Homo sapiens: one gene and its partners. The protein of the gene in region 2 purifies or fractionates together with the protein of the main gene of each other region. This does not show direct contact. Each region holds a gene or a part of one and is shown on either strand. Other genes may lie near its edges.

Evidence for each region.
Region 1: the proteins of PRKD2 (region 2) and DCDC2C purify together in Homo sapiens (affinity purification with mass spectrometry, with the first as the bait; one large-scale study listed by BioGRID). This does not show direct contact.
Region 3: the proteins of PRKD2 (region 2) and ZDBF2 purify together in Homo sapiens (affinity purification with mass spectrometry, with the first as the bait; one large-scale study listed by BioGRID). This does not show direct contact.
Region 4: the proteins of PRKD2 (region 2) and LRRC27 purify together in Homo sapiens (affinity purification with mass spectrometry, with the first as the bait; one large-scale study listed by BioGRID). This does not show direct contact.
Region 5: the proteins of PRKD2 (region 2) and MYO10 purify together in Homo sapiens (affinity purification with mass spectrometry, with the first as the bait; one large-scale study listed by BioGRID). This does not show direct contact.
Region 6: the proteins of PRKD2 (region 2) and LIG1 purify together in Homo sapiens (affinity purification with mass spectrometry, with the first as the bait; one large-scale study listed by BioGRID). This does not show direct contact.
Region 7: the proteins of PRKD2 (region 2) and ABCC2 purify together in Homo sapiens (affinity purification with mass spectrometry, with the first as the bait; one large-scale study listed by BioGRID). This does not show direct contact.

Annotation. Positions count from the first base shown.
Region 1 is NC_000002.12:3,842,669-3,846,862, reverse strand, and holds part of DCDC2C (doublecortin domain-containing protein 2C), read right to left. Parts: intron 2,855-4,194; coding exon of another isoform or gene 2,846-2,854; exon of another isoform or gene 2,793-2,845; coding exon of another isoform or gene 2,769-2,792; exon of another isoform or gene 2,187-2,768; intron 1-2,186.
Region 2 is NC_000019.10:46,699,723-46,703,916, forward strand, and holds part of PRKD2 (serine/threonine-protein kinase D2), read right to left. Parts: intron 1,391-4,194; coding exon 1,313-1,390; intron 1,231-1,312; coding exon 1,077-1,230; intron 1-1,076.
Region 3 is NC_000002.12:206,305,254-206,309,447, forward strand, and holds part of ZDBF2 (DBF4-type zinc finger-containing protein 2), read left to right. Parts: coding exon 1-4,194.
Region 4 is NC_000010.11:132,330,142-132,335,034, forward strand, and holds the start of LRRC27 (leucine-rich repeat-containing protein 27), read left to right. Parts: upstream 1-2,051; 5' UTR 2,052-2,115; exon of another isoform or gene 2,116-2,965; intron 2,966-3,335; 5' UTR 3,336-3,383; coding exon 3,384-3,593; intron 3,594-4,893. Other genes in the region: STK32C (serine/threonine-protein kinase 32C), read right to left, coding at 1,295-1,595.
Region 5 is NC_000005.10:16,667,143-16,671,336, reverse strand, and holds part of MYO10 (unconventional myosin-X), read left to right. Parts: intron 1-358; coding exon 359-811; intron 812-2,868; coding exon 2,869-3,060; intron 3,061-4,194. UniProt on the Homo sapiens protein: Myosins are actin-based motor molecules with ATPase activity. Unconventional myosins serve in intracellular movements. MYO10 binds to actin filaments and actin bundles and functions as a plus end-directed motor.
Region 6 is NC_000019.10:48,135,721-48,139,914, forward strand, and holds part of LIG1 (DNA ligase 1), read right to left. Parts: intron 1,969-4,194; coding exon 1,802-1,968; intron 1,365-1,801; coding exon 1,288-1,364; intron 406-1,287; coding exon 314-405; intron 60-313; coding exon 1-59.
Region 7 is NC_000010.11:99,830,825-99,835,018, reverse strand, and holds part of ABCC2 (ATP-binding cassette sub-family C member 2), read right to left. Parts: coding exon 4,168-4,194; intron 3,409-4,167; coding exon 3,189-3,408; intron 3,043-3,188; coding exon 2,888-3,042; intron 640-2,887; coding exon 484-639; intron 1-483. UniProt on the Homo sapiens protein: ATP-dependent transporter of the ATP-binding cassette (ABC) family that binds and hydrolyzes ATP to enable active transport of various substrates including many drugs, toxicants and endogenous compound across cell membranes.

The DNA of each region.
Region 1 (4,194 bases), on a different chromosome or scaffold from region 2:
ACGCTTCACATTCCTCTGCCCCTTCCTTCATCTTCTCCCCCTTCTCACTCCACAGCCCCCATCCTGACCAACCAGCATTGAATGTGCTGAGTCTATAGCAATGTTTGAATCTGGATCATTTGGTTCAAACGTGGTGCTGAATAACTCTCTTGAAGAGCTATTTAAGCCATCCTCCTAGTACCAAGACCACTCTAAAACTAAGCCCCAAAATGTGAACATCATCTAGAGGCGACATTTTAAATTTTTTAAATTATGTATCCATTAAGTAAAATGAATCTCCTTTACCTCTAGTAAAATGTTCAGAGTGTTTAATTCCATTTGATTCATACAACAATTCTATACTAAGGAAGATAGAGTACTATAATAGACCTGAAATCAAATTTTATAAAAGAAGAAGCCTGGGCAACATAGTAAGACTCCCTCTCTCCAAAAAAAAGAAAAGTAGCCAGACGTGGTGGCTCATGCCTGTAGTCTCAGCTACACGGGAGGCTGAGGTGGGAGGATGCTTGAGACTGTCATTGTGGCACTGCACTCCAGCCTGAGCGACAGAGTGAGACCCTGTCACAAGAACAAGGAGGAGGAGGATGAAAAGGAGGAGAAGAAGGGAGTGGGGGAGGAAGAGTGGGGAGGAGAGAAGAAGAGGGAAGAACAGGAGGACGGGGGTGGGGAAGAAAGAAGAAGGAAGAAGATGACGAAGAAGAAGTAGGAGGAGGAGGAGGAAGAAGAGGACGAGGAGGGAAGGAGGGAGAAAGGAAGGAAGGAGGGAAAGAAAAACATGAGTTCCAGTCCCGTCCCTGCTCCCTCCAAGCTACAGGTCTCATGTGACTTCAGGCCAGCCACCTAACCCCTACAGGTACCTCACAGTAGAATGTCTGTTGGGAATTCTGTGATCTCTAAATTTGCTTCCAGCTCTAACAAACTATGATCCTACTATCATTCTCATTTTACAGAAGACAACTAATGTTCAGGGAGGAAAAGGAAATTGTTCAAGACCCTGTGGTCAACAAATGGTGGAGCACAGACCAGGGCCTGGTTCTCTTAGCCCTAATCCATTCCTTCCACAGCAGCTTGCTGGTCTAAATCACAGGCACTAGGGCAGCTGGAAAAGAAGTCACCAACGAAAGTAATTAGAAATGCAGTTTCAAAGTTCTTTTTCCTGCACTAAGACATATACTTAGAATGGAGCCAAATCAAAGTAGATGTGCTCTCTAGCAGAAACTTAACTAAAAATTGCTCAGGATGAGATGGCAATGGTTCCTATTTGATTACAAATGTCCCCCTTAAAGTGTTACGAGTGTTCTAGTCAAGTCTAACAACAAATCAAGAAGCCCAAATATGGTGAAATCATAGCTTTTCTTCCTCCTTCCATGTGCAACACTGTATATACCACTAATTGGCAGATGGTGTGAAACTGGTCTGATCTTTAAGAGGACTTGGACCATCCTAGAATCACCATTGCCATCTTTGTGCTAACCGTCAAGAAGCTCAGCCAACCTGGAGTCAAGTGCAGGCCTCATCTTAGTAGTGACTCTGCCTGTCTTCTCTCGCTTGGTAACAGAAACAAAAAGACAACTACCCAAATGGAGTAACTGGAGTCGCCAACATTTCTTAGTGCCTTTTGTGTGTCCAGCACGGTTCTGCTTATGGTAAGTAATTTTCCCAACAGCCTGTGAGTTCGTTATTATTATTAGCTCTAAACTGAGCCACAGACCTCGTGCATACCCTTAAAGAGGAGAGAAGCCAAAACTGTATATTGAGTTGAGAGTCCATTCGCTTAGCCACCAAAAATGTACATAGGATTCTACTGTCCATTTAGGACATAGAAGGCATATATATACCTATATCGGCAAATGCATGTACATAGATGCGTGTGTTGTGTATAGATAAAAATAGGTATGTATAATTATTATAATATGCCTTAATTCGCTTTTAAAAAGGGAGAACATGTTAGAGATAACTATGTAAACATGTGCCGTTCGCAAAGTGGCTAAGTCACTCTAGAATGCCAAGTGTGGGTTGACAGTGTAAGAAGGGAAGGTCGGCCCCAGCGGGCAATGATTCACCCAGTCTCGCTAACAACCCTCTTCCCTCCCAGACTTGCACAGTTAGGGAATAGAGGAAGGAATTCCACATGAATTTCGGCTTACAACATGTGTTTAAAAACTTAAAGTCTTGCCACCAAAATATGAAATTCATGATTTTAATATTCCACCAGCATACCTCTTTAGTATAATGTGAAAAAATGTCCGCTTTTATTTTCATTTGTCTTGCTATCCTTTCTAGTTTTTGACTGTTTCTTCACAACATGGTTCACATTTTGTTCTCATGGTGTTTGTTGTTTTGTTACCCCTTAATCATGTGTTTCTGAGACGGTTGTGCCAGGCATGGCTACATGGGCAACTCTGGCGTCTCAGGTGGCTGCTCTTGGCATGACTGTCCTGAGGACGGCTGCGTGGGGGACTCCGGCATCTCAGGTGGCTGCTCTCGGTGTGGCTGTCCTGAGGACAGCTGTGTGGGGGACTCCGGCGTCTCAGGTGGCCGCTCTGGGTGTGGCTGTCCCAGGCATGGCTGCGTGGGGGACTCTGGCATCTCAGGTGGCTGCTCTCAGTGTGGCTGTCCCAGGCATGGCTGCTCAGAGGACTCTTGTTCCTCAGGTGTTTATTCTTCTTGTCTTAGTGATGATTTTTCTTGTGATTGTCCCATCGGTGGTTCTCTGTGGGCTTCTATTTCTACTGGGGTTTCTAGTAGTACAGGTGTATTTTCTTCCTCTAGAATGTCATATGATTCTTTTTCTTGTTTTCAGTAAATAAAATAAAACAAAATCACCAATAAATCTAGTAGCCACCTAAGTCAACTGAAATAAATCATAAAAAGACAAACATTGCTGCTATATCATTGACTTAGTAGTGACAGTGATAATACTAACAAAAATACTTTTCACATAGGGTATTACAAGTGCAATGTGTTTTTGCATGCATTATCTCAAACAAGCATAAAATATGATGAGGTACCATCAGAGAAGCTAGAATCAAAGGTGTGTTACCAAATGCTAATTACACAGACACATTCCATTAGTCATTTAAAAATTGAAAAGTCACAGGGAAGATTCTTGCTCTTTCTGAGTTAGTGAAACAGAAAAGGCATTTTTAGTAAAATGAAAAAGAAAGAAATCAGAGTGCAGGAGAATCCAGAGGCCATGCCCTTCACAGTAGACCCCAACACATTAGAACCAACTTTCGGAGCTCAGGAAGAATACCCCATAGCAATCAACCTTTCACCGGCCAAACTACATTTCCTGATGCTAACATTACCTTTCCTATGGGGATGAATGCCATTTGGCAGAGGAAATTAAAAAGATGCTCCTGAAAACTGAAAACAAAACCATTTGAAATAACACTTGAAAAGAGGTCTTCAGCGAGAAGCCTTGCAGAGCCTGAGAGGGGCCAGGTCGCTCAGCTGACGTGGAGAACTCGGCACATTCACACACTGCCTTCCCCAAAACCTGCTCATCCCCTTGTTTTCAGAAGTAACGCGTAGACCCAAACCAGAAACCTCAACTCCAATTTCATTCTCGCCACCCATATCCACTTTGTGGCCCAGCGCGGTCCATTTTGTCCACTCCCAGGAATCTGTCACTTCCTGTCTGGGTCCCTGGGTCCCACCCCTGCCTGGGTCCAGGACTCCACACCTGAAAGAGAGAATACGATGCACACACATAATACTCTCATCCCTTTCCCTTCTCCCCCTGCTATCACAGCCACTTCTTAGAAACATAAATTTGATCACATCATCTCCCTGCTTTAGCATTACCTACAGGATAAAGACCAAAATCCTTACATTGACAGACGAGGGCATGGCGACAATGGCCAGGTGACCACCAAAGATGTGGACCTGCCCGAGACTGTGTTACCAGACAGAGAACAGCTAAACGGGGCCAGGCAACTAGTTCAGACCAAAGGGATGTGAAACGTGATGTGTCCCTTCTGGGCTGAGATGGCTGGGTATCTAATGTGGCTTCCTGTGTCTTTCCTTCTCCTCCTGTTGCAAACTCAGAGACCATGTGTTGAGGACAGCAGCATGACAAAATCAAGGATCCCTGAGTCACCGTGTGGAGGAGAGCCACCCAGGAAAGCCTCCAATCCACAGTAGGCTGCTGTGATCAAGAAATAAGGATTTATTGTGTAAAGCCACTGA
Region 2 (4,194 bases):
TGCCCTCATGCACCTGAGCTCACATTCCAGTGGAGCTGACTAAGTATGAACTCCGTGTATAGTTTAAAAATGTGTAGGCTGGGGGCACAGTGGCACACACCTGTAATCCCAGAACTTTGGGAGGCTGAGGTGGGAGGATTGCTTGAGCGCAGAAGTTCAAGACCACCCTGGGCAACATAGCAAGACCCCCTATCTTAAAAAAAAAAAAAAAAAAAAAAGAAGAGGAATATAGGTCAGGCGCGGTGGCTCATGCCTGTAATCCCAGCACTTTGGGAGGCCGAGGCAGGTGGATTACCTGAGGTTGGGAGTTCAAGACCAGCCTGACCAACATGGCAAAACCCTGTCTCTACTAAAAATACAAAAAAAGTAGCTGGGCCTGGGCGGGTGCCTGTAGTCCCAGCTACTTGGGAGGCTGAGGCAGGAGAATCGCTTGAACCCAGGAGACAGAGGTTGCAATGAACTGAAATTGCATCACTGCACTCCAGCCTGGGCAACAAGAGCGAAACGCCGTCTAAAATTAGCCAGGGATAGCAGTGCATCCCTGTAGTCCCAGATACTCGGGAGGCTGAGGCAGGAGGATCACCTGAGCCCAGGAGTTTGAGGTTACAGTGAGCCACAATCACACCACTGCACTCCAGTGGGCAACAAAGCAAGACCCTTTGGGAGGCTGAGGCGGGTGGATCACTTGAGCTCAGGAGTCAGGAGTTCAAGACCAGCCTGGGCAACATAGGGTAGACCCTGTCTCTACAGAAATACAAAAATTAGCTGGGTGTGGTGGACGAGCCTGTGGTCCCAGCTACTCGAGAGGCTAAGGTGGCAGGATCGCTTGAGCCCAGGTGGTCGAGGCTGCAGTGAGTCAAGACTGCACCACTGCACCAGCCTGGGCGACAGACCGAGACCCTGTCTCAAACAAAAAATTATTTAAAAAAAATTGTAGTGCTTTAAAAGGTTTGCCTCAGGAACTGGGAAAATTTATAAATATGAGGTGATGTCAGCCCATTGTAGAGAAAAAGAAATTGAGGTTCACTGTGCAGGAGGGTCTTCCCCCAGGGTCTCTTGGAGGGTTCTGTGTATACCTCTGGGCCTTGCCTCCCTCGCCTTCCTCCTCCTCACTGGCGTGGAGCGCATTCTCTGAGTGGGAGCCAGGGATGACACCGGAGTCCTCTGACTCATCCATGAGGGCGCTCTTGTCAGCCTCGCTGAAATCGGTGGCCTCCTCCATCGGCACATCTGTGGGGACGGAGGCATCAGAGGGGTCTCCACCCAGTCCTGCCCCTTCCCCTTTCTCCCCAGCATCCCCCCAGCCTCTCACCTCCATTGATAAGGGCCTCCCCCAGGCAGTCATTAGGGACGCGGGTGGCGCAGCGTTTGTGACAGTTAAACTTGCAGTCTGGTAGGACAGGGAACAAGGGAACGGGTGAGAAGGGGAAGAGAGGTTACCTGGAAGGCTTGAACCTTGACCCTAAGCCTCAGGCTCAAAAGAGTCTACTCTTGCTGTCTGGGTAAGAACACTGGCTGCTGCTGCCCTGGTCATTTTCCCACTTTCAGCCACAGTTTTCCCAACCATCGGGGGGGTCTTGATTAAGTAGGAGGGCTAGACTCAAAATCCCGACGACTGCTGGGTGCAGTGGCTCCCGCCTGTAATCTCGGTATTTTGGGAGGCCGGGGAGAGCAGATCATTTGAGGTCAGGAGTTCGAAACCAGCCTGCCCTACATGGTAAAACCTCGTCTCTACTAAAAATACAAAAATTAGCTGGGCGTGGGACTACAGGCGCCCACTACCACGCCCAGCTGATTTTTTTGTGTTTTTAGTAGAGACGGGGTTTCGCCATGTTGGTCAGGCTGGTTTCGCGCTCCTGACCTCAGATGATCCACCTGCCTTGGCCTCCTAAAAGTGCTGGGATTACAGGCGTGAGCCACCGCGCCCGACTTGTGTGTGTGTGTGTGTGTGTGTGTTATTGGTTCTAATGTGCTGTGACTCCAGACTCTGAACACCCTAGGGCTGGGTTCCTCAACCCGTGACACTAACACAGTGCCCAGGATAATTCCTTGTTTTAGGGCACTTGCTCTGTGTATTGTAGGATGTTTAGCTGCATCTCTGACTTCTACCTACTGGATGCCAGTAGCACTATCCCAGCGTACCAAACAAAACCATCTCCAACCCTTGCCAAACATCCCCTAGGAGCAAAACGGCCCCTGGTCGAGAACCATTGCTGTAGAGTTCAGTGTTTCCACGGTTCTAGGGACACTATACATCGAAGATTCTAGAGTTTACTAAAAACCTATTTTATGAAGGTTCTATGATTCTGTTTTTTGTTTTTTTTTTTTTTTTTTAAGAAACAGTCTGGCTGTCACCCAGACTAGAGTGTGCAATGGCACCATCTCGGCTCACTGCAACCTCTGCCTCCCAGGCTCAAGCGATCTTCCCACCTCAGCCTCCTGAGTAGCTGAAACTACAGGCACGCACTACCATGCCTGGCTAATTTTTCGTATTTTTTGTAGAGATGGGGTCTTTCCATGTTGTACAAGCTGGTCTTGAACTCCTGGGCTCAAGCAATCCACCCACCTAAGCCTCCCAAAGTGCTGGGATTACAGGTGTGAGCTACTGCCCCTGACCTGATTCCGTATTTCTAAGGCTTCAGAGTTTGATGTCCAAGTTTCTAGAACTCTAGACATCTATGAGTCAACACTTCTAAGACTCTTTAATGTCCAAGATTTTAGGGTGTTATATATCTAAACTCTAAAATTTGACAGTTCTAGGGTTCTACAATTCTAGGCTTCTCTACCTCCAGAATCTGCAGATTCCAAGGTTCTAGGATTCTATACATACAAGATTCTAGAATTTGATGTTTCTATGCTTCTTTAGCTCTAGGCTTCTAAGATTCTAGAATTTGATTGTTCCAGTAAATTCTTGAATTGGATGTTTCTAAGTTTATGTGGATCTAGGCTTCTGAGGTTCTAGAATTTTTTTTTTTCTTTTTTTGAGACAAGTTCTTGCTCTGTCACCCAGGCTGGAATGCAGTGGCACAATCATGGCTCACTGCAGCCTCAACCTCCTGGGCTCAAGCAATCCTCCCTCCTCAGAGTCCCAAGTAGCTGGAACCACAGATGCATGCTGCCATGCCTGGCTAATTTTTAATTTTTTTTGTAGAGACAGGGTTTCACCATGTTGCCCAGGCTGGTCTTAAACTCCTAGGCTCAAGTGATCCACCTACCTTGGCCTCCCAAAGTGCTGAGATTACATGCATGAGCCACCACACCTGGCTGGATTCTAGAATTTGATTGTTCAAAGTTCTGGGAGTCTAGAATTTCCAGGATTCTAGGTTACGATGGTTTCAAGCTTATATGATTCTAGACGTCTAAGACTCTCAAATTTGATGTGCCTATGTTTCTATTACCCTCAAATCCCATGGTTCCAAAATTCTCATGCTCTGAGAGTCTATAACTTGGGAGATCTAAGATGTGTAATCTAAAGTTCTGTTGTTATTTTAGCTGAATTCTATCATTCGGAATTCTTGAATGCTATGGTTCTGATTCTAGAATTCTCAGGTTCTACAGTTTTAGAATTCCATGCTAAGCACGTTATGAATCTAGGATTCCAAGGTTCTAAAGACTGAGGTTCAGCTGGGCGCGGTGGCTCACACCTGTAATCCCAGCACTTTGGGAGGCCGAGGTAGGAGGATTGCTTGAGCCCAGGAGTTCAAGACCAGCCTGAACAATATAGTGATACCTTCTCTCTACAAATGATTTAAAAATTAGCTGGGTGTGGCCAGGCGCGGTGGCTCACGCCTGTAATCCCGGCATTTTGGGAGGTCGAGGCAGGTGGATCACAAGGTCAGGAGATCGAGACCATCCTAGCTAACATGGTGAAACCCCGTCTCTACTAAAAATACAAAAAAATTAGCCAGGCATGGTGGCGGGCGCCTGTAGTCCCAGCTACTCAGGAGGCTGAGGCAGGAGAATGTCCTGATCCCAGGAGGCAGAGTTTGCAGTGAGCCGAGATCACACCACTGCACTCCAGCCTGGGCGACAGAGTGAGACTCCGTCTCAAAAAAAAAAAAAAGAAAAGAAAATTAGCTGGGTGTGGTGGCACCACCTGTAGTCCTAGCTACTTGGGAGGCTGAGGCAGGAGGATCACTTGAACCCAGGAGGTTGAAGCTGCAGTGAGCCGTGATTGCGCCACTGCACTCCAGC
Region 3 (4,194 bases), on a different chromosome or scaffold from region 2:
CCATGTAGAAACTACTTCATTTTCGTATCAGAAACATAAAGAATCAAATAGGAAATCTTTACGCATGAATTCAGATAAGTTGGTTTTGTGGAAAGATGTAAAATCTCAGGGTAAAACTTTATCAGCTGGCTTGAAATTCCATGAACGCATGGGTACTAAGGGCTCCTTAAGAGTTAAATCTCCTTCCAAATTAGCAGTAAACCCGAATAAAACTGACATGCCTTCTAATAAAGGAATCTTTGAAGATACTATTGCAAAGAACCATGAGGAATTCTTTTCTAACATGGATTGTACCCAAGAAGAAAAGCATTTGGTTTTTAACAAGACAGCCTTTTGGGAACAGAAGTGCTCAGTGAGTTCTGAAATGAAGTTTGATTGTATCTCTCTTCAGTCAGCATCTGATCAGCCCCAAGAGACTGCACAAGACTTAAGTCTTTGGAAGGAGGAGCAAATTGACCAAGAAGATAACTATGAGTCTAGAGGTTCAGAAATGAGTTTTGATTGCAGTTCCTCTTTTCATTCACTGACTGACCAATCTAAAGTGAGTGCCAAAGAAGTAAACCTTTCCAAGGAAGTACGTACTGATGTACAGTATAAGAATAATAAATCTTATGTTTCTAAAATAAGTTCTGATTGTGATGACATTCTTCACTTGGTTACCAACCAATCCCAAATGATTGTTAAAGAAATAAGTCTTCAGAATGCAAGGCATATTAGCCTGGTTGACCAAAGCTATGAATCTAGTAGTTCTGAAACGAATTTTGATTGTGATGCTTCACCTCAGTCCACTAGTGACTACCCCCAACAATCTGTAACAGAAGTAAACCTTCCTAAGGAAGTGCACATTGGTTTGGTTGATAAGAACTATGGTTCCAGTAGCTCTGAAGTAAGTGCTGATTCTGTTTTCCCACTGCAGTCAGTGGTTGACAGACCCCCAGTGGCTGTCACAGAAACAAAACTTCGGAAGAAGGCTCATACCAGCTTGGTTGATAACTATGGATCGAGTTGTTCTGAAACAAGTTTTGATTGTGATGTTTCTCTTGAGTCAGTAGTTGATCATCCCCAACTGACTGTCAAAGGAAGAAACCTGAAAGGTAGACAAGTCCACCTAAAACATAAGAAGCGTAAACCCAGTAGTGCTAAAGCACATCTTGATTGTGATGTCTCACTTGGGACAGTTGCAGATGAATCCCAGAGGGCTGTTGAAAAGATAAATCTTCTGAAGGAGAAGAATGCTGACCTTATGGATATGAACTGTGAATCCCATGGTCCTGAAATGGGTTTTCAGGCTGATGCTCAATTAGCTGACCAGTCTCAAGTAGCCGAAATAGAGCGTCAGAAAGTGGATGTTGACCTTGAGAATAAGAGTGTTCAGTCTAGCCGTTCTTCTCTGAGTTCTGATTCTCCGGCTTCTCTTTATCATTCAGCTCATGATGAGCCTCAAGAAGCTTTGGATGAAGTAAATCTTAAAGAGTTAAATATTGACATGGAAGTTAGGAGCTATGATTGCTCCAGCTCTGAGTTGACTTTTGATTCTGACCCGCCTCTTCTGTCAGTTACTGAGCAGTCTCATCTGGATGCTGAAGGAAAAGAACGGCACATTGACCTGGAAGATGAGAGCTGTGAGTCAGATAGTTCTGAAATAACTTTTGATTCTGATATTCCTCTTTATTCAGTAATTGACCAACCTGAAGTAGCTGTTTATGAGGAAGAAACTGTTGATCTGGAAAGTAAAAGTAATGAATCTTGTGTCTCTGAAATAACTTTTGATTCTGATATTCCTCTTCATTCAGGAAATGATCACCCTGAAGTAGCTGTTAAAGAAGTAATTCAGAAAGAAGAGTACATTCACTTAGAAAGGAAGAATGATGAACCCAGTGGTTCTGAAATAAGTTCGGATTCCCATGCCCCTCTTCATTCAGTGACTAATTCTCCCGAAGTAGCTGTTAAAAAGCTAAATCCTCAAAAAGAAGAGCAGGTACACTTAGAAAATAAGGAAAATGAACCTATTGATTCTGAAGTAAGTTTGGATTATAATATCATTTTTCATTCAGTGACTGGACGTTCTGAAGATCCCATTAAAGAAATAAGCCTTCACACAAAAGAGCACATGTACTTAGAAAATAAGAGTGTTTTTGAAACAAGTTTGGATTCTGATGTCCCTCTTCAGGCAGCGACTCACAAACCTGAAGTAATTGTCAAAGAAACATGGCTTCAAAGAGAAAAGCACGCTGAATTCCAAGGTAGAAGTACTGAATTCAGTGGTTCAAAAACAAGTTTAGATTCTGGTGTCCCTCATTATTCAGTAACTGAACCTCAAGTAGCTGTTAACAAAATAAACAGAAAGAAGCAATATGTTCTAGAAAACAAGAATGATAAATGTAGTGGTTCTGAAATAATTTTGGATTCTAATGTTCCACCTCAGTCAATGACTGACCAACCTCAACTAGCTTTTTTGAAGGAAAAACATGTTAATCTGAAGGACAAAAACAGTAAATCAGGTGATTCTAAAATAACTTTTGATTCTGAACAACTTCAGGAAGCGGTTAAAAAAATAGACCAATGGAAGGAAGAGGTTATTGGCCTGAAAAATAAGATTAATGAACCTAGTACTTATAAATTAATACATCATCCTGATGTTTCTGTCCAATCTGTGGCTGATCAACCCAAAGTAGCTATTAAACATGTGAACCTTGGGAATGAAAACCATATGTACTTGGAAGTTAAGAACAGCCAATATAGTTGTTCAGAAATGAATTTGGATTCTGGTTTCTTGGGTCAGTCAATAGTCAATCGACCTCAAATAACTATTTTGGAGCAGGAGCACATTGAACTAGAAGGTAAGCACAATCAATGTTGTGGTTCTGAAGTAAGTTTTGATTCTGATGACCCTCTTCAGTCAGTGGCTGACCGGCTGAGAGAAACCGTTAAAGAAATAAGCCTTTGGAAGGATGAAGAAGTTGACACGGAAGATAGGAGAAATGAAGCTAAGGGTTTTGAAATTATGTATGATTCTGATGTTCTTCAGCCAGTGGCTGGCCAACCTGAAGAAGTAGTTAAGGAGGTCAGTCTTTGGAAAGAGCATGTTGACTTGGAAAATAAGATTGTCAAACCTACAGATTCCAGAATAAATTTTGATTCTCATGAACCCCTTCAGTCCGTAACTAATAAAATTCCAGGGGCGAATAAAGAAATAAATCTTTTGAGGGAGGAACATGTTTGTCTGGATGATAAGGGCTATGTGCCCAGTGATTCTGAAATAATTTATGTTTCAAATATCCCTCTTCAGTCAGTGATAAAACAACCACACATTTTGGAAGAGGAGCATGCCAGTCTGGAAGATAAGAGCAGTAATTCTTATAGTCCTGAAGAAAGTTCTGATTCCAATGACTCTTTTCAGGCAGCAGCAGATGAGCTTCAAAAACCTGTCAAAGAAATAAATCTTTGGAAGGAAGACCATATTTACCTGGAAGATAAGAGCTATAAATTAGGTGATTTTGATGTAAGTTATGCTTCTCATATTCCTGTTCAGTTTGTGACTGATCAATCTTCTGTACCTGTCAAAGAAATAAACTTGCAAAAGAAGGATCATAATGATCTAGAAAATAAGAACTGTGAAGTCTGTGGTTCTGAAATAAAATGTCATTCTTGTGTTCATCTTCAGTCAGAAGTTGACCAACCTCAAGTGTCTTACAAAGAGGCAGACCTTCAGAAGGAAGAGCATGTTGTCATGGAAGAAAAGACCGATCAACCTAGTGATTCAGAAATGATGTATGATTCTGATGTTCCTTTTCAAATAGTAGTTAACCAATTTCCAGGATCAGTCAAAGAAACCCACCTTCCAAAGGTGGTACTTGTGGATCTGGTGCCCGGTGATAGTGATTATGAAGTAATTTCAGATGATATTCCCCTTCAGTTAGTGACTGACCCACCTCAGTTGACTGTCAAAGATATCAGCTGTATAAATACAGAATGTATTGATATAGAAGATAAGAGCTGTGACTTTTTTGGTTCTGAAGTCAGATGTAATTGTAAAGCCTCTACTCCCTCAATGACAAACCAATGCAAAGAGACTTTCAAAATAATAAACCGGAAGAAGGACTATATTATTCTGGGAGAGCCAAGTTGTCAATCTTGTGGTTCTGAAATGAATTTTAATGTTGATGCCTCTGATCAGTCCATGACTTACGAGTC
Region 4 (4,893 bases), on a different chromosome or scaffold from region 2:
CAATCTGGCTGGGCAAAAACTGAGCACAGTAAAGGGCAAAACATGCTCGTACATACAATTAACTACTGACTACAAAAATTAATGTAGCATGAAAAATGTGAAACAAAAACCTGAGGCAACAATAACAAGCAAGAGGGAATACGCTCAAATGGTTAGTAAATGTTTTATTTGTGAAAAGAGATACTGGAATGCTGAAACTTGTTAGAAATAGCATCGTGCTGAAATCTTCCATCCCCTTCGCCACTCACGGCAACACCCATGTCACTCCTCATTCTCTCCTTGCTCTGCCCGGGTGGCTGGCCTCCCCACGCTCCTGAGAAGGTACTGGTTGTGCTTTCAGCTTCCTGATTGGTAGATAGTTGGGTATGTACGAAAACTTTTTTTTTGAGACAGGGTCTCGCTGTCACCGAAGCTGACATTAAGTGGCACAATCATAACTCACTGCAGCCTCAAAATCCTAGGTTCAAGCGATCCTCTTGCCTCACCCTCCCACACAGCTGGAACTACAGGTGTGTGCCACCACACCCAGCATTTTTTTTTTTTTTTTTTTTTAATTTTTGTAGAGACTGGGTTGCCCAGGCTGGTCTCCAACTCCTGGCCTCAAGCGATCTTCCCACCCTGGCCTCCCAAAGTGCTAGGGTTACAGGCGTGAGCCATCGTGTCCGGCCTAAAAAACATTTCTTACTGTGATCTCTTCACAAAAATAAAACGTAAATCCCCTCAAAGTGGATAGTCGTTTCTCCACATAATTATGTCGTTTCCTTTAAAAAGTGGAATCAGGCCGGGCACGGTGGCTCATGCCTGTAATCCCAGCACTTTGGGAGGCCGAGGGGGGCGGATCATGAGGTCAGGAGATCGAGACCAGCCTGGCCAACATGATGAAACCCCGTCTCTACTAAAAATACAAAAATTAGCTGGACGTGGTGGCGCGCGCCTGTAGTCCCAGCTACTGGGGAGGCTGAGGCAGGAGAATTGCTTGAACCTGGGAGGCGGAGGTCGCAGTGGGCCGAGATCGCGCTACTGCACTCCAGCCTGGGAGACAAAGCAAGACTCCACCTCAAAAAAAAAAAAAAAAAAAAAAAAGTGAAATCATGGCAGACTCCAGCTAAACTGTCCGGGTTTCCAGAGTGTTTCTGGGTGGGACAGAGGGTGCTACTTTTCATTATCAGTTGGATCCTGGAATGAAGGTGCACGGGACTCCAGGGTTCCACAGGACCACGCGAGCACCTCCCCTCCCGCCCGGTGTCATTTCATCTTCTTCCAAATTCTCAAAACCCTTCCTCAGGACACTCACTGCGTTTCCTCGCCCCCCTCACTCCTCCGTCCAGAGGCAGCCTTACTTCTCCAAAGAGGACGCTCTGAGTCTGCGTTCCCCTGGCAGCAAGTCCTGAGGCAAGATTTGGGGACAAGCAGCTCCTGTGGGAAGTGGCTCCAGGAAGCCCCAGGAGAGACGCGGGGAGTGAGCCCAGCGGGAAGGACAGGCAGCGAGGACCGCTCCAAAGGTGGTGCCTCAGCAGCAATTCTTTTCTGCTCGGCTGTCCTCGAGCAGCCCCGCCCGCCCCGGGCCCTCCGGCTCCCCAGACGGCACTTAGCATCCCGCTCTCTTCCTTCCCCTCTGTGCCAGGCCGGTCGCCCCTCCAGACCCTCGCGGTCTCTACTTGCCCGTCGACCACCACCCCTTCAAGGCCGCGGGCGCGGAAAAACGGATGCTACCGTTGGCCGCGTGCGTGCGCAGGCGCACCACCCCCTGCCACCCCCGCGCAGGCGCACCACAACCCCCCCACCGCAAGCGCAACCCCCCGCCCCAGCGCAGGCGCACCACACCCCGCCCCCTCCCGGGCAGGCGCACCACACCCGACCCCCTGCCGCGCAGGGGCACCCACACCCCGCCCCCGCACGCAGGCACAAACCCCCACAACACGCACACCCCCGCGCGCAGGCGCACCACACCCCTCGCGCAGGCGCATCACAGACACACTCGCGCTCAGCGTGGCGCCTGCGGGATTCCGTACCGGCGTCTCCATGGCGACCGCGTTGGCTGGGTGGCCTCCATTGTCGGGCTGCTGCTCTCAGCGGCGGGGCTCGCCAGCGCTTCAGTGGGCGGGGACGCGGCAGGTGAGACGGGGCGGGTACGGCCAGCTCGCTGAGCCCTCGAGGCGGGCGGCGGCAGGAAGGTGGTGCCTCGGCCCGTCGTGCCCTGTCGCCTAGCTCCAGCCGCGATGCTGACCGCAAAGGCTGCCCTTCTGAGGCCTGGAATGTGAGGCCCAGAGCGTCGGACCCAACTCAGCCTCGCCCGGATGGGGAAATCGAGGCAGGGAGCGGGGGTGGGCGTGCGTGGGGATCCCTTGAAGGCAGCCTCGGAAACCCCACGGAGCCTGCGCTGCCTGGGCCCTGTGTGAGTCCAGGCTGTTGTTTCACTTCTGGTTTTAAGATACTTTCCCTGTTCTGAGGTTTGAAGCCTCCCCTCCTCTGTTTTAAGTTCCGTGATTCGGAGAAAACAAGTGAACTGACCGTGAAAAAGCCCGCGGGCTTCCATGGAATGCAGGCTGCCTGGGGTTGAACCCTGCTGGGTCCCGGTGTCGCCTCTACCCCCCAATTAACTGCGCCCCTGGAACAGTTCCCTAACTGATCTGCGCCTCATATGCCAATCATTGGGCTGTTGAGTGACTTGAATTAGGTGAACTGATGCATTCCAACGTTGATTCTTATTGCCGAATAAATTGTTTGGAAATTGCAAGTGGAAGTGTGCCTCGCTGAATGAGATTTTGGTGAACAATACTTCTGAGTAAAAGTGTTGCTGGACAACGAAAATTCGAGATTAATTTAACAGGTTTTTCCCCGGTGCTTAACTGGGTGTAAGCCAGACTTAGTTCTGGTCACTGGGTCAAAATGGTAAACAAAAGACAGGCTTCCTGGCCTCAAGAAACTAAAAACATAGTTCAAATGGCACAGAACCACACCAGAGGTAAGAAACAGTGCAAATTTCCACCCGCCCCTAGTCATTTCATGGAAGCGTTGCAGTTGATTTACAGGCTTTGAAATGTTCCGATCTGTTTACATCCCTAAAATGATCATTACTATTGTGCGCCTTTGCGTTTTCCAGGAGTTAAATCTTGGAACTCCATTGTACAAAGTGAGAGCAGAGAATTTTAATCTGAACCTCTTTGTATTCCTTTTTTTTTTTTTTACATGTTTAAAAGTCAAATTTTTGCTACTGCTTAGGAAAAATGATAGCTTTTAAAGCAAGTTACATTACAGTAGATCTGCCACACAGCTATTCTGTTTTGCCTCGGTATAATTAGTTGCTTCTACGTTTCCCTTTCCCGTGTCTCCAGGTGACTCCAGACCAAGGAGGATGAGCTGCTGTCCCTGGAAGAGAACGGATGGAGGGAAGCAGCTCCTACGAAGTTCCCTCTGTGGCTGCTGCTGATCTGGAGGAGGGTGCTGGTCAGACTAGGAGCTTGCCTGCCACCCCCTCCAAAGATGTTCACAAGGGTGTTGGAGGCATCATCTTTTCCTCCTCACCGATTTTAGACTTGAGTGAAAGTGGTCTGTGCCGTTTGGAGGAGGTCTTTAGAATCCCCAGCCTTCAAGTAAGTGGGGCTGCTCCTCAGGCTGTGTGCCCACAGGTCCCCTATAGACAGAAATGGGAATGTACCCCTGGGCTTTATTTGTAGGCTTCTTTCTCTTTGGAATTGATGAATTCTAAAATTAAATAGAGGAAAGGTTAACTCATAGTTTCATACGCCAATCACAACAAAATGGGAAATTCATGATGGGGACCAACCAATGGAAATAGTACATCTATTTAGATGAAGGTGTCTGTTCTCTTCCTTGCAGTTCATCTCTCAAAACCTGTGGTAGAAACTACTGCCAAACACGCTTGGTCTCTTAATTAAAACACAAAACCTTAAAGAAAATCAGGCAACATGAGCAGTTAAAAACTTTGTTCTCACCCATGATTTTGCTCATGTTACACACTGGTTTTACTTTGTGCCCGGCCCTTCTCCGGGTCAGTCCGCAGTAGATGCTGTCTTGTCCATGTGATTTCTAGAGAAAGCTTCTGTGAGGGCACAGGTTTGATGTTAGACAGTTGAGGGTTCCCCCTGCAGCACTTGTCCCTGCTGGGACTCACAGAATTTCCTTAAACCTCATTTGGTTTAATCTGGAATGTCGGAATGATCATGTTTTCACATCATTTATTGTGAAAATGAATAATGTGAAAGTTCAGTGTCTGGAACATAGTTATGATATTGATTGACTTTCTTTTTGTATTTTTAGTAGAGATGGGGTTTCACCATGTTGCCCAGGCTGATCTTGAATGCCTGAGATCAGGTGATCTGCCTGTCTCAGCTTCCCAAAGTGCTGGAATTACAGGTGTAAGCCACCGCACCTGGCCAGATTGACATTTTTGAGTGCTTCTACAAGAGCTACATATTTAGATTTTTAGTGGCTGCTTAAGTTATAAACTCTACATTTGCATTGTCTTTGCTGTCACGGCAGCGCTGGTCTTGCTCTTTCTTTCCTTCATGCTGACATCTAGGGTGAGGCACTGGTCACAGGGACCTGCCTTGTCCTGGCTCCTGTTACACAGGTGTCACTTTTAATGAACAGATATCCTCAGCCCTGAATAAGGGATCCAGCAGAGCCCTGAGGTTTCTGTTACCTTTATGCACAAAGGGAGAAGGAGGAAATTCCAGAGGTCTTCAGGCTTGATGAAGAAACTTGATAACTGTTTATACCTTTCAGAAGACAAATGTCAGTATAAATTTTATTACCATGGCATAGAGTCTTTAAATGTGGTAATCAGAGTGGTAGACTTTCTGCCGCTGTGGCTGCAGTCTCTAAAGTCATAAACAGCACTTCCAGAGATCCCCCATCCTCACATGAGGC
Region 5 (4,194 bases), on a different chromosome or scaffold from region 2:
CTTAGAAATGAGGCACACCTGTGGATTTCCCAGCAAAGACAAGACCAGCTGCTCTTTCATTCGTTTGTAGAATGAAACCTGCTACACATTTTATTTGAACCTCCGTTCCAGGGACTGTTCTAGTTGACAGGAGAGAGAGCACAAGGAATAAAATATGTGACGTGTGTTAGATGGTATCTGTGCTAGGGAGAAAATTAAATTTAAAGCAGTGAGCCAGGGGTGAGGGTACAGTTTTAGCCAGGGCAGTCAGGGAAGGTGAGTTTGAGAGAAACCCTCATGAAGTGAGGGAGCAAGCGACGTGGGCATCCCATGGCATGGCAGTGCGTTGACCGGAAAGCTGTTGACTGTCTCCTTTCAGGCCCACGAAGCGGTTATCCATGGCCACCATCCAGCCCCGGAAGAAAACCTCCAGGTTCTTGCTGCCCTGCGACTCCAGTATCTGCAGGGGGATTATACTCTGCACGCTGCCATCCCACCTCTCGAAGAGGTTTATTCCCTGCAGAGACTCAAGGCCCGCATCAGCCAGTCAACCAAAACCTTCACCCCTTGTGAACGGCTGGAGAAGAGGCGGACGAGCTTCCTAGAGGGGACCCTGAGGCGGAGCTTCCGGACAGGATCCGTGGTCCGGCAGAAGGTCGAGGAGGAGCAGATGCTGGACATGTGGATTAAGGAAGAAGTCTCCTCTGCTCGAGCCAGTATCATTGACAAGTGGAGGAAATTTCAGGGAATGAACCAGGAACAGGCCATGGCCAAGTACATGGCCTTGATCAAGGAGTGGCCTGGCTATGGCTCGACGCTGTTTGATGTGGAGGTGAGAACTGGCTGCCGTGTGTTGGGGTGGGCTGGGTGCTGGCATCTGAGAACATGGATCACGGCCAAGTTCATGTGGAGAGAAGACAAGATGGAGCATTTTGCTCTCTCAACCTCTTTTATTCGAGCCCCCAGAATTGTACCATTAACGCCTCCCTTCTCCTCACAGTTTCTCTTCTCCTGTGTAGTAAACACATCTGTAATATTAGGAATGAATGCAAAATTAAGATGTCATCTATTCTTCTACCCTTCCTTAGGGAAGCTATAGATCTAATTTTTTAAACACTGATAAAAATCTACATTTAAAAAAATGTTATAGCTGTATATACAAATTAGAAACTTTGGATATACTTGCATTTTACTTTGTTTTTTCTTTACAGCCATCTGTTTGAAAGGAAGAATGTCTATCTCGTAATGGAATTTAGCCATTGGCATCAACCCAGTACTGATTTTTGTTTTGTTTTAAGTAGACCGCTTATTGAAAAGAAATCTTACTAATTGTCTAGATGAGAGTTTGGCAAACTGGTCTGTGGGTCAGATCTTGCCTGCCTCCTTTTTTCTAAACAAAGTTTTATTGGAACACAGCCAAGCTCATTCCTTTAGATATATTCCCTGGCTGTTTTTGTACAGAGTTGAGTAGTTGTGACAGAGACCATGTGATCCACAAAGTCTAAAAATCTTTACTATGCAGCCCTTAACAGATAAGTGTGCCAGCTCATCGTCTAGATTAGCTTCCATTTTTTATGATCACAGTAATTCAGCGTATATCTGATGACTTTATATTGAGGCTGTATAAAATTCTAAATATTATAAATTCTAGAATCCGTGGGTGGCTTTTCATTAGGTGATGTTTTTGATTGGTTTGGTTGGTTCAATTATGCCTGTTTTTAAGTATAAAAAAATCAGGTGCTTTGTACAAAGCCATAATTCCATTTCTCCCTGACAAGGAATAGATAATAGCAGTTAAACTCTTGGCTTCCTGCAAAACGTGAGCTGTGAATTAGCATAGAAAGCTACTGGCTTGGCCGGGCGCGGTGGCTCATGCCTGTAATCCCAGCGCTTTGGGAGGCCAAGGCGGGCGGATCATGAGGTCAGGAGATCGAGACCATCCTGGCTAACACGGTGAAACCCCATCTCTGCAAAAAATTAGCTGGGCGTGGTGGCATGCACCTGTAATCCCAGCTACTCGAGAGGCTGAGACAGGAGAATCGCTTGAACTCAGGAGGTGGAGGTTGCAGTGAGCCAGGATCACGCCACTGCACTCCAGCCTGGGCGACAGAGTGAGACTCCGTCAAAAAAAAAAAGAAAAAAGAAAGCTACTGGCTTTTGCATGGAGGATGCAGAGAATGTCTGGTTATTAGGGATATAAACTAGAGACTCTTTTCAGCGTCTCCAATTTATAGCCCTCCTGCTTGTCCAGGTTTGGATCAGCCCTGTGTTGTTAGCCCCTTCATATGGGGTCTTATTTTCTTCCACCAATCTGTACAGGAAAGTCTACAGTTAAACTGGTAAAGTCCCTGTTCCCACTCTGCATATGGAAGGCCATTGCTGCTCCTTGTGAAGAGGAGCCAGAACTGCTCAGCATGCGTGATTTGGAGAATTTTCCTCTGTGATCCTAGATTTTGTATTTGAAGACTAACCATCCGCAAAGAGGATTGGAGGCAGAACTGGAGATATTAATACAAGAGTAGACTTGGCTTGGGTTGCAGGGAAGCTTCCTTAAGTCCCCCGGCCAAGCATGTACGTTTCCAGGCCACTTCCACGTAGCTAATCCAAACAGCTAGTAGAATAATGCTGAGAAGTGGAGAGTCAAAGCAAGATGTTAGACTCTGCCAGTTAGTGAGGTTTTCCCAAAAGCGTGAGATTAACTAGTTAGAAATCAAGATAGCCAGAGAGGTGCCATTTTTCATATTTCAGGCCCCTCCATGCATGCATGCACATCGAATATATTTAATCTTCTGCACAGAGGACTTCACTCAAAGCCTGTCTTATGGTTTAGATGCTTTCTGTTGCCAACCACTTCATGACTTAACTCTTCTGTTGACTCTTGCCCACCAGTGCAAGGAAGGTGGCTTCCCTCAGGAACTCTGGTTGGGTGTCAGCGCGGACGCCGTCTCCGTCTACAAGCGTGGAGAGGGAAGACCACTGGAAGTCTTCCAGTATGAACACATCCTCTCTTTTGGGGCACCCCTGGCGAATACGTATAAGATCGTGGTCGATGAGAGGGAGCTGCTCTTTGAAACCAGTGAGGTAAGAGGCAAAGCAAGTTCATCTTTTTATTCATGGTCTTGACAAAACAGAAAAACAGGACCCCATTTCCTCATGCCTTTGACCAGGTCATTTTCTTTGAATATTTTTCTTCAAAACACGAAAATACAGTGTGGTGGTCCCTTTCCAGCTGCCGGTTCCCTGCAGGCCAAAATCTGAGATCACCATATTTTTTTTGTATACTTTTGCAACAGAGGAATCTGGTTCCATTTTGCCAAGGAGTCTTACCCTTGGAGGAAAGGCAGAGAAAGGGAAGTGACATAGATGTCCCTGAAAAAGTATATTATTTGCAACAAAACCTTATGAAAATTAGTTAGCAATTATAGCGGTGTCACAGCTGTGAGACTCGGCTCTGGTGGCCTCTTGAGACCAGGAGGGAGCCGGGAGCATGACCATCCTGGGTGCAGCTCATTCTGGATTGTGAAACCACACACACTAAAAGGCCTCTAAATATATGTGCTACCAGCCTCCAAGTTTAAAAAATATAATACAAGAAGCTTATTGAGGCTTCCACAAAGGGAACAGCTAGCAAGTCAACGTGGTGAGTGGAGAGGAATCACCTGCTGCCTGGTTTGGAATGGAGAGGCATTGAGGAGGGCGTTCCAGCTGCTTGGAGGATGTGGCATTGTAGGTTCCCTAGGCTGATGGGGAGTCGTGCAGTGAGAGGGAAGAGGGTGGAGAGCCCTTGACTCAAGGGTCCCAGGTGCCAGGCTGCAGGATTTGGTGAGATCCAGTAGACAACAAGGAACCACTGTGGGATCTTTGATTGTGCATGGCATAACAGTGAATTTACAGACAGTGATCTCTGGGGTGGGACTGGAAGGGAAGAGAGCAAACAGGGATATGGAAGCCGGTTATGATGCCTGCACAGGGATCCAGGCCAGCTGTGAGAAGGGGTGGCAATGACGGGGACATCATGGGAGGGAGCTAATGGAGATCCCAGCTGGAGGAGGTGGCTGGTGTGGAGCAGAAGCTGGCCTGGCGTCTGGGGAGCTGGCCGCTCTCCCAGCCCCTGGGGCCTCAGTTATCTTGTTTCTTCAGCTGCTTCCTAAGGAGTTGACTAGAATTAGATGATCCAGTCTTTAAAGGCTGTAATTGTGGACTCTGTCATTTCAC
Region 6 (4,194 bases), 1.4 Mb from region 2:
CGTCTTTCTGGCCTCTGCTGTCTTGCCCTTCCCAGCATCCACCATGGCTGGTGGGAATTCTAAGAAAAGACCCACCAGAGGCTTTGGAAGGCACCCACATCCTTGGCTACACCAGGGTGCAGTGGGTGGTTTGCTGTATGGCAAGGAATGCAGATGCCGCGGCCCAAGACGCCCCCTCCCCCCCACCCAGGAGAGAGGAGCCTGGTATGGCAGGGGCCCGCTGGGGAAGGGGCGGGCATGGGCCTCTGAAGAGGAGGGGGGAAGCCTGAGGTAACTCCAGCGAGGGATGCAGAGACGGGCCACAGGAGCTCACCTTGGCCCGGGGGCGTGAGGCTCACTGCCTGGGAGAGGGCAGCCAGCACCGACTGCTCTGCCAGCCCAAGGCGCAGCCGTCCGCTCAGGGACCTGGGGAGAGAGCAGGCCAGGGAAGGGGGCTTGTCTGCACCTCCCCAATCTTGCCTCCTCCCTTCTCTGATCTCCTCGACCTTGATGTATGTAGACCCTCTCCTCAAAAACCAGAAGAATCTTCAGAGCCTGGAAGGGACCCCAGATATCACACAGCCCCATGTGACAGATGAGGAAACTGAGCCAGGCAGTAATGATCCTGCCCACTAGCATAGACTGGGGAGGGGCACAAGTAGGTGCACCAGCACCTCCCATCTCAGCTGCCCTGAGGGGTTGGCGAGGCTTGAGGAGGATGAGTCAGGGAGAGAACTGAGCCTGGCGCCCGCCCTGGTGACTGTAATGGTCAGGACCCCAGCATGGTCCTTGCTTTGAGCCAGTGGCAGGAGACAAGTGGCTTAGTTTGCCTCCCCATGTCTCCATTTCCCCTTCTATAAACTGGAGGTGAGGGTAACAAGACCAGTCTCACAGAGTTGCTGGTAGGAACTGATGAGGTAAGGCACGGGGCACAGGGCAGGGCTCCCAAGAAATGCTCCATGATGTGAGCCCTCAATGGATTTGCTCTCACTGTCATGGCAAACAAACCCTGGCTTCCTGCTGCAGGGCCCGCGCCCAAGCCGAGGCAGACCTCACCAATCAATCACAGCATGCTTCACCCACAGGGGCCCAGGGGCCTTCTCTAGACAGCACTACCAAGGGACAGAAGCTGGCCTGTGAAAGGAAATGGTGTCCCTTCCCACTCTTTAGGGGCTGGGCCTCCTGCTCATGCTTTTCTCATCCAAGGATGGTCAGGGCATTTGTGATGATTCCAGCTGCCAGTCCCTCCCTCCTTTCACCTCCGAGCCTGCAGTCCCCCTCTGTAGCCTCACAGGCCCACACGCTTACCTAGCGATGAACCGGGCTTCTGAGTGGCGGCAGGCCACAAAGAGGCCTTTGATGATGTCTATCTTCTTGGCTGTGGACTGGAGAGTCAGGGGAAGAGCCGTCAGTGCCTGGTGAAGGCAGGGACCACACCTCCACCCCACCAGCCGTGCTGCTGCCCTGCATTTTGGAATACCTGCCCTCCTTCCCTCACCCCATCCCCATGTCCCAGCTCCCATGGCCGCCCACTCTTAGGGCAGTAAGAACGAGCTAGCTCTCCTCCTTGCCTCCCTCTCCCTTTATCCAGGAAGTATTTACTGAGTCCTGTCATGTGGCAGCCATGGCATTAGGTCTGCTAGACTCTGAAGAGGAGACTCCCCTAGGATTGGGTGCAGGAAGGAGGAGAGGAAGCTGTGCACCCCATGAGAAGGACTGATGCGACCCAGCTGATGGTCTACCCAGAAGCCTTCCTGACACACGCGTGGCCTCAGGTCCCCAAGATGTCTGGGGTCCGGGATGAGCGGCCCGCCCCACTCACAGCACTGCCAGTGAGCCTGGCGATGTCGCGGAACTTGCTGAAGACCCCGGAGGCAGTGAGCGGAGGTGGTGGCAGCATGAGCCTCTGGGTGCTGCGGCTGTTCTCGGCCACCAGCCCCACGTCGCCTTTCTCGGCTGCCTCAGCCCGGACGGACTCCAGCTGCCGACCTTCAGGGGAGAGCGCGGGTGGGGGTGTCGAGGGTGACAGTTGTGGCTGCGTGTCTCCCTTCTCTCGCGGCCTGGATGAATTTTCTCCAGCTGTGTGTGCTTGTGGCGAGTCCCTGCACCTCCCTGTGTCTAACGCTCACCCACTTGGTAGAAATGGCTTGGGGAACGTGCCCCCAGCCACGCTGGCTGTAGGAAGTCAGCAAACATGCACGTGGAGCCAGGAAAGCGGTGGATGAACGAGCATGACCACACTCAGGGGAGACATCTGGGCCGGTGTCATCAGGGCGCGGATGGGATTTAAAGCCACAGGCGGGACAAGGTCACTAGGGAAGTGAGTGTGGACAGAGCAGAGAAGGCCAAGGGACCCTTTCCTCTGGCGGGTCATGAACATCTCTGGCAGTGACCAAAGACCCTTCGGCTTGTTTTGGAGCCACCAGCTTACACACGTGGGATGTGCTCTGGCCCCACTTACTGTCCAGAGCTGGGTCCCATGGGCGCCTGGGTGTAAGAGCTGGGGAGATGGAGCCTCAAGTCACGGTGACAGCTGTGACAAGCAGCTCTCAACCTATCAGAACCAACACACCCTTGTCACCAGATACTGTGTGTCACCTCTTTTCTGGTCTGAAATAAAATGTGGAGATAACATAACCTGCCTACACCTATCGAGATAACGCCCTAACCCTAACACAGAAAAGAATGAAAGGGAAAGCAATCCGTAATGAACGAACAAGTGCGCGTTTCAGTCCACAGATGCTCAGCCGCGGCACAGAGCACATGAAGGTGGGCCTCGCGCCTGAAGCGAAACTGCCACAAATGGGAGAGCCGACAGTGTGAGCCTCACCAATGGGATGTTATCGAATCACACATCAAAGGGGACGGGATTCTCCAAAGTGGCCAACAACTCACAACAAACCCGGGACTTGGACAGCCACGGGGGCCACAAGGCGGCACGGAGAGCAGTGTGAGTGTGAACACGACCCATCAAGGGTGGAGGCATGAGACAGTGGAAGAGGCCCCAGCTGCCATGGATTGTTGGGCAGGAAAGCCAGCATCTGCAACTTCTTTTGTGAGAAAAACAGATCCTTCTTTGTCCAAGCCAATGTAGTTGGGTTTTCTGTTACCTGCAGCTCAGAGTATTCTTAACCGACCCCGTGTGTGCTGGGTCTGGTATGACGTCAGTGCTCCCGAAACACATCTTGAGTGAATGAGTGAGAAAATCTTGAGTCTCATCTCCTCTGGCTCCCATAAGCCCGTAACTCTTTCCTGATCCAAGTCAACCTTTCTCAGTCCCTCTGTCCTCTCATGAAAGCCTGAAACCCCTGCCTTCCCTAAATGTTGGTGCCCATGGCCCTAAGCCAGCTCCAGTGCTCCCAGCACATCCTCTCCCCAGGCGGATGAGAACCCACCAGTGGGTGGTCATCCCTCCTACACTGACCAGCCCGAACCCTGGGCTCTGAGCCAGACCTGGTGAGCCTCAGACCCGTTTCCAAACTTCCTGGATGGCCCTGGGGGCCCACAGATAGAGGTTGCTCATGCCTGCCCCACGCTGGGGTGATTAATGCCCCCTGCAGGTGCCTGCCCCTCACCAGGGTCCCAAGCTGCCGACGGCTTTGTCATCCATCCAGTCACCCAGGGAGATCCTGGAGGCATTCCTCCTGCCTCCTCACCCTGACATCCACTGTCTGCCAGATCTCTCCTGCCCTCTTCTCTCTTCTCTACAGCTGGGGTCCAGCTCCTCTTCCCCCTGGATGCTGCCCCTTGCCTGCTCACAATCCTTCCATGGCTCCCCAGTGTCCTCATGATAAGCACCGAGCACTCCAGGCCCTTGGCAGGCGGGCCATCCGCATCACCAGCCTTTCCACCCAGCACTGGCGGCTGGGCCCCTTCAGGCTGCTGGCCCCCCACACACCATGTTCTTTCCTCCCACTCCTTCCAATCCCTCCAGTCAAAGTCCTTTCAGACCTCTCTAAGCCCCAACCTTCCATCTCAGCCCCCAAATCCTGCTGTCTCTGCCTCCAGCATCTTTCCCCAGCCCTCCCCTTCCCTGCACCCCACACCCCCTGTCCCAGCACATGCCTGGTCCTCCCTCACCTGAACTGCTGCCCCTGTGTTCTCTCCCACACCCCTGCAAATCTGTCCCCATCAGGCTCTCCTCCCTCTCAGCCTTCTCCTCAACCCTGTTTCACAGCCTCTCTCCACCATCTCTCCGATCCACCTGACCTCTGC
Region 7 (4,194 bases), on a different chromosome or scaffold from region 2:
GACACCCCAGTGAAACTAGAACTTTGCCGAAGTAAAAAGAAAGACCCAGCTGCTGCTGAGAGACATCTCCAAGCAGCTATGCCTGTCCAAAGTCAACCAAGGAAGCACCATAGCATGGCTCTTCTGGAACCGACCTAATCGTCATGGGGGTTCTTATGGAGCTGCAAGACTGTGTCCAGAGCCAATCTCAAAGTAGTCTTGGATCCAAACGTAAATCTGTCCGACCTAAGCTTCCAGGGAGTGAAGGGTGGGCAGCAGTTAGGGTGACATTTGCCATAAATGGTGCACCCATTGATGCTCTCACTTCAGCTTCAGACAGTGGCCTGTGGGCTCCTGGGTATGTCAACATATGACTAAATGGCAAAGCTGCTGAGGGGAGGAGTGAGTGACTAGCAATGAATCAGAGAGAAGATTCTCAGGAAAGAGGCTGGGCTTTTATAGATAGAGAGGAAGGAAGGATGACTTAGCCATTTCCAAACCTACCTGAACAGATACATAAATAATGCCAAGAGGAATGACGATGATGGTGAAGACAGGAGTGGCCATGCAGATCATGACAAGGGTGCTGATTATCCCCAGGAAGCATGTAATCCAGCTGCGCAAGGACTGAGGCAGGGTGTCATCCACTGTGGAAATATCCTAGGAAAACGATTAGGAGAGATACACCATCACTGAGGTCTTCCTAAGATAGTTTACATCTTCCTAGTTCTAGCAAGGAATCTGTTGGATTCTGTGTGTTCCCAGTACTCCTTCATGTAATCATTTCATTGTGTTCATTTGCAATAGGCTGCATTGCTTGCCCCAATAACCAATTTCATTTCCATAATTTCTTCATTTAGGCCTGGCGTGGTGGTCACACCTGTAATCCCAGCACTTTGCAAGGCCGAGGCGGGTGGATCACCTGAGATCGGGAGTTCAAGACCAGCCTGACCAACATGGTGAAATCCCATCTCTACTAAAAATACTCAGGAAGTTGCTTCCTCTGCTAAGCATAGAGGACCAAGGGGAAGGGAGCTGGGGTTGAATGTGAGCCTGCCTGGACAGTGTTCTAACCAAGGAACCCAGCGGGAACAGATGTGTCTTACTGCCATGTTGCCTTCGTGTCATGTGAAATAAATGAACAAATAAGAAAAATGAATGAATGGATGGATGGTTTGGAGAACACTCAAGAAGCTTGGTTTATATTTTGGGTTGCCCTTGCCTAAATTTGTGGGGATTATATTGATTCTATGATTGGTAATATGTGAGTACCAAAGTGAGTTTAAGTTATCTCTGGAATTTCTCAAACTGTATCAGGGATAATGGTCTTCCAGGAAAGCTCTGAATCATGGATGACTCCTGAGTCTAACCTACCTTTCCCAAAGTCCTATCAGAATGCAAATAACTATACCCACAGTTGGCAGAGAAAAGAAATCCCTACCAGTTATCAGTTCTATGCAGATTACTTTTGATCCTTACCTGGCACAGAGTCTCCATCTTTCCTTCCTCCACTCCATCTCCTCTTAACTCAGCCATTGATCCCAGAGGCCCCTTGATCAAACTCCCCTTAATAGGTCTGAGCCACCTCCCCAACGAAACATACTATATAATTAATGACAGTTTCCTTTCTCATGCAAAAGCAGTCTTCAAACTATGACTGTTGCCTAAGTAACTCACAGAAAACCTCTGTGTTCTCTTTCCCAGAAGATTATATATATTACAACATGGGGAAAACTGTGATCTTTACAAAATTACTATGAGAAATTTCTCACCCAAAATTGAGTGTTCTTTTAGGTTCTAGTAAAGAGCAGAAAGGCCATTGAAGTTGTCTCTAGTGACATCATGCCCACTGTTTCTGCCCCAGAGGAAGATGACACAGGGGGACCAGTTAATGGCCCACTTTTGAAGCAGTTACTGTGTCCCCAGAACCTGGCTGTGGACTGTGAGCTATACTTTCTATGTCTGCCCCAAGACCAACAAACAAGAGTCCAGAGCTGCTCCATAAGCACAGGGCTAAAAACTGTGCTGGTGATAGTTACTTATCATTCAGAATTGCCTGATCTCTGCCTCTGTTCCTGAATTCCCATCTCAGATACACTAAAAAATCAGTGAGTTGGGTCTGGCCCATGGAAGAGAGACATCTATGATCTTCACATTCATTGAGTGCCCCAGTGTCTAGTACAGTAGTTGGCTCATAGAAAGTGCTCAATAACGGTTGTTGAATGAATGAATGAGTGAATGCCAAGGGGTCCAGGATCTGTGGTAGATGGAAACAATATTTGAGAACTTTTTAAAATCACTGATGGCTCTATTCCATAGTCCAGACCAAATTTACTCATTCTTAAAGCATTCAAGATAGAAGTTTCAGGAATGGAGGCAGAGGCCAAGCAAAGGGTTATCCTACTATCTCTTGTATTTCCTGTCCCAGGCTGTGACAGTGCTTTTATTTATGTTCCTTCCTCTGCAGAATAATCCTTCTCACCCTGCTCTACTGCCATCCCCCAACCCTTGCCATCTCCCTGGCTTGCTTCTATGACTTAAGTTTCACCTTTTCTGACATTTCCCACCTTTATCACGCAGGCTGGGCTAGTGCCTTTTTTTCCTTTGTACTCCCAGACCACCTTTCTACACACTGCTGTTACTGGTTTTACTATATTCTATTATAATCCTTCACTTCTTTGGTTGTCTTCTTCACTAGATGCTGAGCTACTTGAAGGGTCAGAGATGTTCATCCCTCAATCTCCAGGATTCTTGGGAGCTCACAGCAGGTACTCAAGAAACACTTGCATGTTGAGTGACAAAAGAACTGGAACTGAACAGTGTTGTCTAGGGGGACATAATAATTCCTCCCTATCAGAAAGATCCTCAGTATATAAACACACCACCTGACAGTTCTTGAGATACTTACGCCGGCAAACCTGTTCACAATCCGGCCTGTGGGTGTTGTGTCAAAAAATCTCATAGGTGCTCGAAGGATATTGTTCAGCAGTTGCTTGTGCAAGATATTTGATGCATGGACGAAACCAAAGGCACTCCAGAAATGTGCTATGAACACAAATATACCTAGAGATGGAAGCAGTTTTGTCAGCACCATGCACAGGAATCCCTGAAGACTTGTGCCCAGGACATAATGGCAAATGCATTCCTGAGTCCAGGAAAAGTACAGGGTCCAGACAGATTCTGTAAGATGTCATAGCCATCAGACATACCTTGGGCTAATCCCAGAGCTCCGTAGACTCCAACTCTCATGTCCCTCTGAGATGCTGGATAGTCGGTGCTATTGAAGATTTTAGAGTCACTGGTCCAAGCACTGAGCCAGAGGTTGGATCCAATAAAAGCCACAGAATTCATCACAAACGCAAGGATGATGAAGAATATCGAAAACAATCCTATTGCTTGTAGGTACTCCAGGTAGATGGAGAACTTCACCTGCAAAGTCCCCACCTCAATATTAGTAGAACTCCCTAATGGCTTTTGATAAGGAATCACCTAGAATGCCAACCACAAGGAGAAGTGGAGTCCCCTGGGAGCATGGGTAGCAGGTAGCAAAATTTGGTAGTCTGTGGTCACCATTTCTGCACTGTGCCAGGAAGGATAATAGAACAATGCTGAAATACAATGCAGGGTAAATAATCATCAAAGCTAAAGGCATTTAAGAGGAGAAGATATAAAAACAGATTGGGACAAGCCAGACATGATAGCATGCCCCTGTAGTCCCAGCTACTCAGAAGGCTGGTGTGGGAGGATCTCTTGAGCCCTGAGGTTTTAGTCCAGCCTGGGCAACATAGTGAGACCCTGTATCTAAAATAAACACACAAACAAAAAATCAGAGTGGAACAGATGATGGGGTTCTACTGCCGACCTTGAAATTTGTGGTTAAATTTCATTAATTTGAATTATGTGCTCTAGGTCTGAGTTTTCCTGTTCCTCCACACATCAGAATGGAATCAAACACTCATGAAGTGTAGGATGAGGACATTCACAGGAAACATAGCATTCTTTATGGAAATATGACTTGGTAGAAAGCCCACAGCCTCTGCTAACAGGTTAATAATGAGTCTGAAGATTTGCAAAGGACAGAGGACATATTGCTCCTGTAAGTATGCGTTCAATTTTCACTGAACGTTAAAAATTTTGGGTTCTAAACCTTATAACACCTCAAATGCTACTTTTCTGTGTGGTGTTCACCTTTCCAGTTTCTATGAATTCCTTCTT